2 separate regions of the Homo sapiens genome follow, and region 2 is linked to region 1. Evidence: fine-mapped expression QTL. A gene starts in region 1. The other region holds a variant in brackets. All regions are shown on one strand. Distances are between the middles of the regions.

What was found.
Region 2: its variant is fine-mapped to the expression of LINC02631 in whole blood (TOPMed, PIP 0.98).

The regions. Positions count from the first base shown.
Region 1 is chr2:138,599,204-138,604,595 of GRCh38, reverse strand. LINC02631 (long intergenic non-protein coding RNA 2631) reads right to left here and starts at 2,997. Exons shown (of 3, transcript NR_174959.1): 1 at 2,155-2,997; 2 at 37-532. It overlaps LOC124905958 (a long non-coding RNA gene), which reads left to right and starts at 3,286. Exons shown (of 3, transcript XR_007088680.1): 1 at 3,286-3,365; 2 at 3,781-3,855.
Region 2 is chr2:138,532,989-138,538,380 of GRCh38, reverse strand. The region is part of intron 1 of SPOPL (speckle type BTB/POZ protein like); the gene reads right to left. Among named protein-coding and RNA genes, the nearest start is that of SPOPL, 34 kb to the right of the region's middle. The variant A/G (reference allele first, on the strand shown) is at 2,341.

The sequences.
Region 1 (5,392 bases):
TTTTTCTCTTAGAACAAGAACAAAATAAGTGATTACCTGGGTGGGTTCAGTGGATCAACAGCCTTTGTCTTCATCAGGAGAGCAAAAATTGCCCCAGAACATACTCCTAACAGATTTGCACTTGTTTTCATGGCTGGAAGTGAGTCATAGGGCCACACTTAGCTCAAGGGAGACTGGAAAATTGAGGATTTGGGGGCCAGTGGGTGGTAAAAAGAAGGGTGTTGGAAATATTTTTGGGATAATCATTTAGAATTATCTGCCTCAGGAAGTTTTGAATTAAAATCATATTAATTAATGTATCTACAACCTCCCTTTGGAGGGAATGCAGTGCTTCTAGAGGCCTCAAACTTCTGTTTTCTCAGAGAAAGCAGAAACCCAAGAGGAGAGCCAAGTGTCTGCTGTGCCTCTTCCTTGGGGCAACATCTTCCCTAGCTCTAGATTGCTGGTCCAAGGGAATCAGGCCACTCAGTTGGCTTCGTCAATGGAAATTCTCAACACAGAATGCTCCTCTTCCACTGTGAGATGTTTCACCCTGCAAATAAAAGTGCAGAATCTCAAGTCATGGGGCACACGTGGAATTCTGACTCTTCTCTTTTCTAACTCTTGATCTCGGACAAGTTTATGGTTAAAACACTCACATTGCTAATTTGAAAATGGGAATAACAATGTTACTTATCTCTTTTCTATGGCAGTGAGGATTAAATGGAAAGCACTAAATAGAGTGGCTACCATATGTAACTACTCAGTAAATGGTAACTGCTATTATTAACATTAGTAGTTGCTATGGACTGAATCTCTATGGCTCCCCCAAAATTGATGTGTTGAAACCTAATCCCCAATGTGATGGTATTTAGAGGTAGGGCTTTTGGAAGTGATTAGGTCATGAAGGTGAGGCCCTCATAAATGGGATAAGCACAGTTTGTAAAAAGAGACTCTCGAGAGGCCCCTTGCCCTTCAACCCTGTGAGAACACAGTGAGAATATGGCTGTCTGTGAACTGGAAAGCAGGCCCTCACCATACACAGAATCTGCAGGCACCTCAATCTTGGACCTCCCAGCCTCCAGAACCGTGGAAAATAAATGTTTGTTGTTAAAGCAACCCCATCCAGGATATTTTTGTTATAACAGTCCAAACAGACTAACGCAGTAATCATAAACAGTAACACTTTTTAAATGTACAGATTTTCCAACTCTGTCAACTTTACTCCAAAAGGTTAACAACAAAAATTATGTGAATAATGATTTCTTTCTGTTTGCATCTAAAATTAAACCACATGAGCTTATTGGAATTCATCCTAGAATCTCTGTAATTGTTAGTATTTGAATGACAAGCTCTCCCATACATTTACTAAAGTTTGTAAAGAAAGCTATGCCATTCTGGAGTATGATGATCTGTCCCTGTGACGTATCTAGAAAGTTCATTACTTGTCTGTAGTCGTCTCTTGCCAAATTCAATTTGCAAAGACAATAGCTTCATAGCCATTTCTTTTAATCTTGTTTGTAATATTGCTCATTAAATAGAAGATATATTATGCCAGATCTTGTTCATTTCAAAGCAAATTATAGAAGGTGACTAAATTGTGCACCAAGAGAAAGAGTCCAATGTTTTACCAGCAAGGCCACAAAATCGACATCTGCTTTTTGACAAGCTGAGAGATCCAAAAGAATCTTGACGTATCTTAATGCTGTCTGTCATATACCACAATGTTCATCAATTATTTCTTTGTGAAAGAATGACTAATTATTATGCCTACATGGGGTTCATTTGCATATGCAAGCTCAAGTGTTTTATAGAGAAAAGAATGTTGATTTGTGGTGAGGGCAAACTCCTTCCCTCCAAATTAAAATACTTCTTTTTACACACAGTTACATTAGGCTTGCTATTGAAACCCAGGGAGAGAGAAAATATAATTCAGGAACTGAGTCCAAATCTATTTTCCCATTTCCAAGAAAAAGGAAAACAGTATATTTTTCATGTATTTTAGACTAAATTTTTGAAAAATGTGCCATGCAGCTGCCATTGTTCATAAGGGAAAATGATCTGGATACAATTGGCCTAATCAACTCTTAACCTGAGAACATAAGTGGATGATTTCACCTAGTGTTACCCACACAAGCAGCTGCTGACATCAGGGTCCTTATGAAAATGCTGCACCTGAGACTGATGCCAGGTAGATGGCACTGGGGATTTCAGACTCCAGAACTGAAAACAAGCTGAGCATCTGGTGGAGCCATCCGCTGATCCAAAAGGCTGCTCTCTACAGATGAATGGGTGTTAAGACAGCTGTCCTTCCTAGACCATGAGCAGCTGCTGGCCAGGGTTGCTGCCTGCCAAAAGGGTGGAGTTGGGAGAAACCAGGAGTCAACCACAGCTACCACAGTCTAATGAGTTAGTTTGATACCAGGGACATATTAGGAGGACTTGCTGCTGCCACGAGCTTGCACATGACTCTTCTCAACTGCAGAGGAAAACCAGTATGATGCCAGGCTAGAAGCAGCAGCATCACCATCAGCCTGGTCACATTCTACTTATAGCCCACTCCATCTGACAGCATAAAGCTAGACCTGCCCTGGGCTGCTGGTAGCATAAAGCCAGACCTGCCCTGGGCTGCCAAAAAAGTCTTCCTGAAAGCCATGAATGACATGCAAAGGAGAAATATGAAACATCTAAGTGAATATAGAGGAGAGGGCATTTCTGATAGACACTCATGAGTCAGGCCCACAGGCTTAAAACACAGTGATACTTGTACTGGTTTCTTACAGCTGCTGTGACTTAAAACAACAGACATTTTTTCTCTCATGATTCTGGAGGCTGAAAGTCTGAAATCAATGTGTTTTCAGGGCCATGCTCTCTCTGAAGTCTGTAAGGAAGAATCCTCCTTTTCCTCTTCCAGCTTTTGGTGGTTTCTGGCATTCCTTGGTTTGTGGGAACCTAAATTCAGTCTCTGCCTCCATCTTCATTCACATGGCCTCTTCCCTGGGTCTCTGTGTGTTTCTCACAGTCTTCTTATGATGTCACCAATTATTGGATTTTGGACCCACCCCACTCTAGTATGACCTCATCTTAACTTGATTAGATCTGCAAAGTCCGTATCTCCAAATAAGATCACATTTACTGGCACAGGGAGTTAGAATTTTAACATATCTTTTTAGGGAACACAATTCACACCACAACACTGGCACATGAAGAGGGAATAGGAAGTGTCTGGATGAATGTGGGGGAGAGGGTATTTTCCTCCTCTATAGTCACTTAGACAGAAAGAATGTCATGAATCAAGCCCAAGGGCTTGAAATGCTCCAGTGCTTCTGTAGAAAACCAGCAATGCCTCACTCCTCACTCCAGCAGGATGCTTTACTTTCCCTGTGGTAAGACCAGCAACACTTATGATTATTTGCTCCTTGTATGGGTAGAAGGGTCACCTGTGTAAGTATAACACATCAGCCCACCCCTAAAATTTTCAGGGCTCCGGATAAGAACATAAATGGAGACCCAAGAAGCATATGTCCAATTATTTCAAAGTTATATTTCATGCTACAAATTGTTAAGCCAAATATGTTCTGTTCTCCTATTTTGACAAATACACCTTCATTACTACAAAATTTTTATAGGTATTAGAAAGCTGTGGTTTTTATTTAACTGAAAGTTGGCAAAATATCAGATGGTCTGTCTGGGTATTCTGTTGAAAGGCTGATGATGTTAGGATGAGTAATAAAGACATACAAAATTCATAAATTATTATATATTTATTTCACAGAATTTACTGTCTTTCCTTTATTTCAGAAAATGTACTAATTATGTTGTTGTTGCTGGGGGCGATGGCTCACGCCTGTAATCCCAGGACTTTGGGAGGCTGAGGTGGGTGGATCACCTGAGGTCGGGAGTTCGAGACCAGCCTGGCCAACATGGTGAAACCCCATCTCTACTAAAAATACAAAAAATTAGTTTCAGGATTATTTGCACATATTATTTGTTTCTCCTTAGAGTCATTTTTGTTTCCAACTTCAAATTTTCTTATATTTTATTGATATGTCATTTTTATTGGGTAACTCACATGTAGTTTCTATTACTTATAAAAATACATTTCATAATTAAAATACTATGATATGTTATATACATATAATATGTGTGTGTGTTAAATCTTTTAAAAGTAAAAGAAGACTAGATTTGTTTAGGGTTTTGTAAACTTTTTCTAGCATTATTAATAGCACCCATCCATTTATACCAAATAACTGTGCACAAATTATACTAATTATAAAATTTATTCTAATTATAAATTACTTTGATTTTCTGTGATGACTACAATTTTCTTTTTGAGCATCTTTTGCTTAACTCTCTTGGTGCAACTTGTATTTCTTTATGTGTCCAAGAGATGCTGTAAGGTTTAATCAAAACATTTCATATTTTAAAAGAACCAGAAAATATTACATATAATCTATGTACTATTCCCAATAATGTCATGGATAAGGGCACAGTAAAGGCCATGCCTCCTAGTAATAAGCACAAAGGAATTACACAAAAGAGTGCCAAGTACAAAGATAGATTTGGAGCAAACTCTTGGCTTGTGCACCTTTTCCTTTATCAGCCATGTTAGCACCATTTTCGGAGGCTTGTCATTGATTAACTTTTATTTTGAAAGAGAGATCTGTTAAAGAATACAAAATTATAGCCAGATAGGAAAAATAAGTTCTAGTGTTCTATAGTACTGTAGGATGATTATAGCTAAAAATTTATAGTTTCAAATAGCTAGAAGGAAAACATCGAACATTCCCAACATAAAGAAATGATAAATGATTGAGATGATGAATATGCTAATTAATTACCCTGTTCTGATCACTCTGCATTACATGTATTGAAACATCACTACATACCCCAGGAATATGTACAATTATTATTTGTCCATTAAAAACATAAAACATTTAAAAAGCAAAGAAAAGCTGTTTTTAATATTTGTGTTTTATTGATTTTTATTACTTTTCGTATAAAATTAAAACTTGAGAATTCTAGCTTTCAATGTCCTTTTGGTTGCTAATGTAAAGAGGTGATATCAAATTTCTGGCATTATATAGATATATAATATATATTGTGCATATTATTATATATAATGTATATATGTATTATATATTATATATTTATATATGTGTGTATTTATACACTTATTGGATTATTATATATTACAAAATGTTCCTCAGTTACCATGTGTGCTGTAGCACAGTGTTAATTCATGGGTCCTTCCTGAATCACAAATTAGAACACAAAGAGAAATAAGAAAATGGATGCTGAACACTACTATGAAAAGATACTTTGTTAGACAAAAATCTAGAGCACTCATGATATCAGAGAGGGAAGACTGGATAAATTAATTAAGTTGCCTTTTCTCTTATCAAGTGCTCCT
Region 2 (5,392 bases), 66 kb after region 1:
GAGCCCCAAACGATATCAAGCAAAAACTAACAGAATTAAAGAGAGAATAGACAATTCTACAATAATAGCTGGAGACAGAAATACCCAACATTCAATGATGCAGAGAACGAGGAAGATCAATAAAGAGATAGAAGACTTGAACAGCAGTATAAAATAACTAGACCTAACAGCCATTTCACTCATCAACAGTGGAACACACATTCTTCTCAAGTGCATATGGAATGTTCTCAAGGACAGACCATATGCTACCGAGGCCACAAAACAAGTCTCGACGAATTTAAAAAAATTTAAATTATACAAAGTATCCTCTCTGATTGCAGTTGAATGAAACTATAAATCAGTAACAGAAGAAAAAATTTTAAAATTCACAAATGTGGAACTACCAAAACTGACTCAAGAGGAAACCGAAAATGTGAACAGACCCCCATAACCAGCAGAGACTGAACCACTAATGAAAAAAACTTTCAGCGTGACAACTTGAGGAGTTCCATGGACATACTCCCCAGAAAATTTGGTGAAAAATATAAAAACACTGCTGGAAGCACAGAACAAATGAAGAAACATTTATTCAAGAAAATTTAGTAGAGACTATGAGAAAAGTGAGAGTCTGTGGTCTTTGAACCAGGAGCTGCTCTGTCCTAACTCAAGGAGTCAGAAACTCCACTCTAGACTGGTGTAGCCATAAGCACTGTGTTCCCTCTTCCAACAGGTCCAGTCAATGTCCTCCTGTGACAGGAAGGATGTCAACATTTCTCATCCTGCCTCTAAGGGAGAAGACCACCCTTCATATTGTCTTGTGCCCAATTTCTGCCTCCAAAGAAAAAAGAAGTAAAAACTAAAAGGCAGAAATGAAATCCACAGGCAGACAGCCCGATGCCACGCCCTGGGCCTGGTAGTTAAAAATCAACCCATGACTGAACTGCTTGTGTTATCTATAGATTCCAGACACTGTATGGAAAAGCATTGTGAAAATCCCCGTACTGTTCTGTTCCGTTCTGATTACCGGTGCATGCAGCCCCCAATCATGTATCCCCTGCTTGCTCAATCGATCATGACCCTCTCACGTGGACACCCTTAAGAGTCATAAGCCCTTAAAAGGGACAGAAATTGCTCACTCAGGGAGCTCGGTTGTTTGAGATGTAAGTCTGCCGATGCTCCCAGCCGAATAAAGTCCTTTCCTTCCTCAACTCGGTGTCTGAGGGGTTTTGTTTGTTTGTTTGGCTCATGCTGCTACACCTCTAGCTACTTAATGCTGATGTTACAGGTGAATGAAACCAAGAGGTAAGGGGCTGGCTCCCTTCTTCAAATCTGTCACTGCCGGAAAGGTGGAGGCTCTACTTTGGGCATGGTGCTGTCAGGGTACCAATCACTGCTGTCTTGGCTTGTAAACTGTGGGTTCCATACAAAGAGCGTGAAGATAAGAAGAACTGAGGCTACTGCCTCCCTCCAGCACAGCTCCTACAGTAGAGATACACTGGGAAAGAAATACCATTGTTCCTTCCTCCTTACTCCAGAGCCTGGGCTTGGAGATGTTTGCCTGTGGAAAGAAGTGGACCATAAAGCAGACTGCTTTTAATCTCTTCCCAGAGAAAAGAAGTTCATTTGCAAGGAAACAGGCAAGCATGATCTGAAAAACAGTAGAGGCTGTGAGAGGCAAATGAGAAGAGACTGGAGGAATCAATGGATACAAAGGCTAAACTACAGGACAGCTGATTTGCCCAAAAAAAAACAGGAAAAGACACAGCTGAGAGGAGCCCACCTGGATTCGGAAGAAATTTCAGGCACTGACTTAGGGAACTATTTCTTCAAAGGAAACCAAAGTTGATGAGTCTGCAGAACAACATAATGCCCCAGGGCATTGTTGAAAACAGTGCAATTAGCACTAGATTAATGGACCTTAACAGATGTGAGTAGTCAGGCAAAAAGAAAGCCCTGCCAAACCACCATCACCCAGGGTAACTGGGAATACCCAAGGCTGCTTCCCCAGAGGTGCAACATCAGAGGCTTAACACTGTGTGCGTGTGTGTGTGTGTGGGGGGGGGGCACTAAATAGACTCCACTAAAACAGTCCATAAACAAAATAAGCAAGAAGCAACAGCATGCACTGGAAGGAAGAAACCAGTTCCAAGAATTTCTCAATTTACTACATAAAATATCCAGCTTTGAATAGAAAATTACGAGGCATGAAAAAACAGAAAGTATGACCCATATGCTGGGGAAAAAAACAGATAACAGAAACTGTGATTAAACTTACATGTTGGATTTAACAGACAAAGCATTCCAAATAGCCATTAATAAGTATGTGTAAAGAACTAAAGGAAATCATAATTAGAGGAAGGT[A/G]TGATGACAATGTCACACAAAAAAAATAAAGAATGTCAACAAAAAGGTAAAGGTTATTTTTTTTAAAAGAACCAAATAAAAATTCTGGAGCTGAACCATATAACTGAAATGAAAATTCACTAGAGGAGGTCAACAGTAGATATGAACAAATAGAAGAATTAGTGAACTTACAGACAAATCAGTAGAGATTATACAATCCAGACAGAAAAATATGAAGAAAAATGAACATCTTCAGAGAACTGTAGGACATTATTTTAAGCACACTGACATGTATATAATGGGAGTATCAGAAGGAGAAGAAAGACAGAAGCAGCAGAAAAAGATAACTAAAAAAAATGGCTGAAAACTTCTCAAATTTATTGAAAAGCAATAATATACACATTTAAGGAGCTCAATCAACTCCAAGTAGGTTAAATGCAAAGAAACCCACAAACACATGGATCACAGTAAAAATGCTGAAAAAGACCAAAAAAAAAAAAAAAAAAGCTACTAGAATGGCTATTAAAAAAAAAAAAAGGAGTGGGGAATCACCTGCATTGACGAGGATGTAGAGAAACTGGAATCCTTGGACATTGCTTGTGGAGATGTATAATGGTTTAACCGCTGTGGAAAACAGTTTAAGGATTCCTCAAAAAATTAAACATAGAATTACCACATGATCCAGCTATTCTACTCCTAGGTATATATCCAAAAGAACTGGAAACAGGTGTTCAAATGACTGAAACATAAATGTTCTTTGCTGCAGTATTCACAATAGCCAAAAGGTTACTAGCTAATAATCCATTCATTGATGGACAATCCAAATGTTCATCAAGCAATAAATGAATTTTTAAAATGTGGTACATGTACACAATGAATTTTCCTTTTTTTAAACAGTGTCTTGCTCTGCCACTCAGGCTGAAATACAGTGATGCAATCACAGCTCACTGCCCACACCTGGGTAATTTTATTTCTTATAGACACAAGATCTCACTGTTGCTCAGTTTGGTCCTGAACTCCTGGGCTCAAGAGATCCTTCCAGCTCAGCCTCCCAAAGTGCTGAGATTACAGGTGTGAGCCATTAAGCCTGGTCACACAATGAAATAATATGTAGTCATAAAAATAAATAAAGTATTGATGCATGTTACAACATGAATGAATCTTGAAAACATTATGCTAAGTGAAAGAAGATAGGCACAAAAGGCCACATTGTATCATTTCACTTGTTTTAAATATTGGGCAGATCCATACATACAAAAAGCAGATTAGTAGTTGCCAGACCTGTGGGGAGGGGGAAATGGTAAGTAATTGGTTATGGAGTTTCCTCTGGGACTGATAAAAGTGTTCTGGAACTAGACAGAGGTGCTAGTTGCACAACACTGTCAATGTACTAAGCCATTACGGAACTGTACTTTTTAAAAAAGTAAAAATGATAGATTTTATGTTATATGAATTTTGCCTCATTTAAAAAAAATACCTGCACATAGAAGTCCATATGCACATATATACACATTTCTTTTGTGATTAAAAAGTAATCAAAGTTGTCCCTTTGTTTCCATGGGAGACTGATTCCAGGACTCCCATGGATACCAAAATTCACAGATGTTCCAGTCCCTTATACAAAATGGTATAATATCTGCATTTGATATACACATATCCTCTGGTATCTTTAGATCATCTCTAGATTACTTAACACCTAATACAATGTAAATGCTATGTAAATAGTTGTTATACTGTGCTGTTTTATTAGATTTTTTAAATTGTTGTATTGTTAATTTTTTTTCCCATATATTTTTGATCCACAGTTGGTTGAATCCTCAGATGCAGAATCGGTGGATACAGAGGGTCAACTCTATAAAACACCTTCTATAACTATTGAGTCTATATTAGCCACTATTAGAGAATAAAGTACTAATCGTTATTTTTAATCACCCAAAGGAAAAACTATTGTTTCTTTAAAAAATGTCTTCAATTTTGCAGTATATCAAGTGTGTTAGCTATCAAGCTTCTAGACCAATAAAATATATAAATTATCCAGCAAAGTAGGGTTAAAAAAAATCATGCTGTCTAAAGAGCATTATCAAAATTTTATCCAGTTATAAAATGAGACTGATGTTTATGAGCTACGTCTTTCATTGTCATCTGCAATCAGCTCATTCATCTTCTAGGAGGTAGCTTAATCAATTGTGGTTTAATTATACATACAGTATTTTTGTTTATTAATTCTACAATTAACAAATGGTAAATTACAATTTTGAAATACTACCATATTTATGCTAAAAGTCCTCTGAACTGCTTCAGGATGTTATAACAAAATACTGCCTGAGGTCAAAACAACTTTATATATATGATGAAAAAGAGTTAATATAATATATAACATATAATGTTCAACAGTTTTGCTAAGACTGTACCAGGGAGAATAATTAAGATTCTAATAAGTGTTTATAAAGGTGATAAAATAGTAATACACATATAAATTTCTTAAATCTATTCAAATTAAGTATACGATGACTTTAGGGAAATACAATGAACATTTATTATATGCTTAGATATATCATGCACTCTAACGAAACCTGGGGTATGAAGATAAATAAAACACATTCCCTACTCTTGGCAAAAACTATAACATAGTAGAGGATACAGACACGGAGATATTTTGAATATGATAATATGAGAGAGTACTGTAACAGTGATAATGAAGCACTTCAGGACACAGAAAATGTCCTGAAGATATTCCCTGAGCTGTATTCTATAGGAAGCAAACAAGATTATAGAAAGACCACAAACAATAGCATAGACTTTAATAACAAGAGCTATATACTGAGACCAATGTGAATCAGTGCTTTGCCATGAATTCTGTGATCTTATAGATACTGGGCCTCTCCTTTGTTTATTAAATTATTATAGCACCTCATTGCCCTATGGTTGCTGAGTGGATAATAGGAAATTTTATACATATACACACCCTTAGCACAAAGTGAGTACTGGAGTAGAAACAGTAAGTAAAACTTTACTGGTGACAGTTGATGGTACAGATGGGCAGGGGAGATAAGCCTGGTAATGATCAAAACAA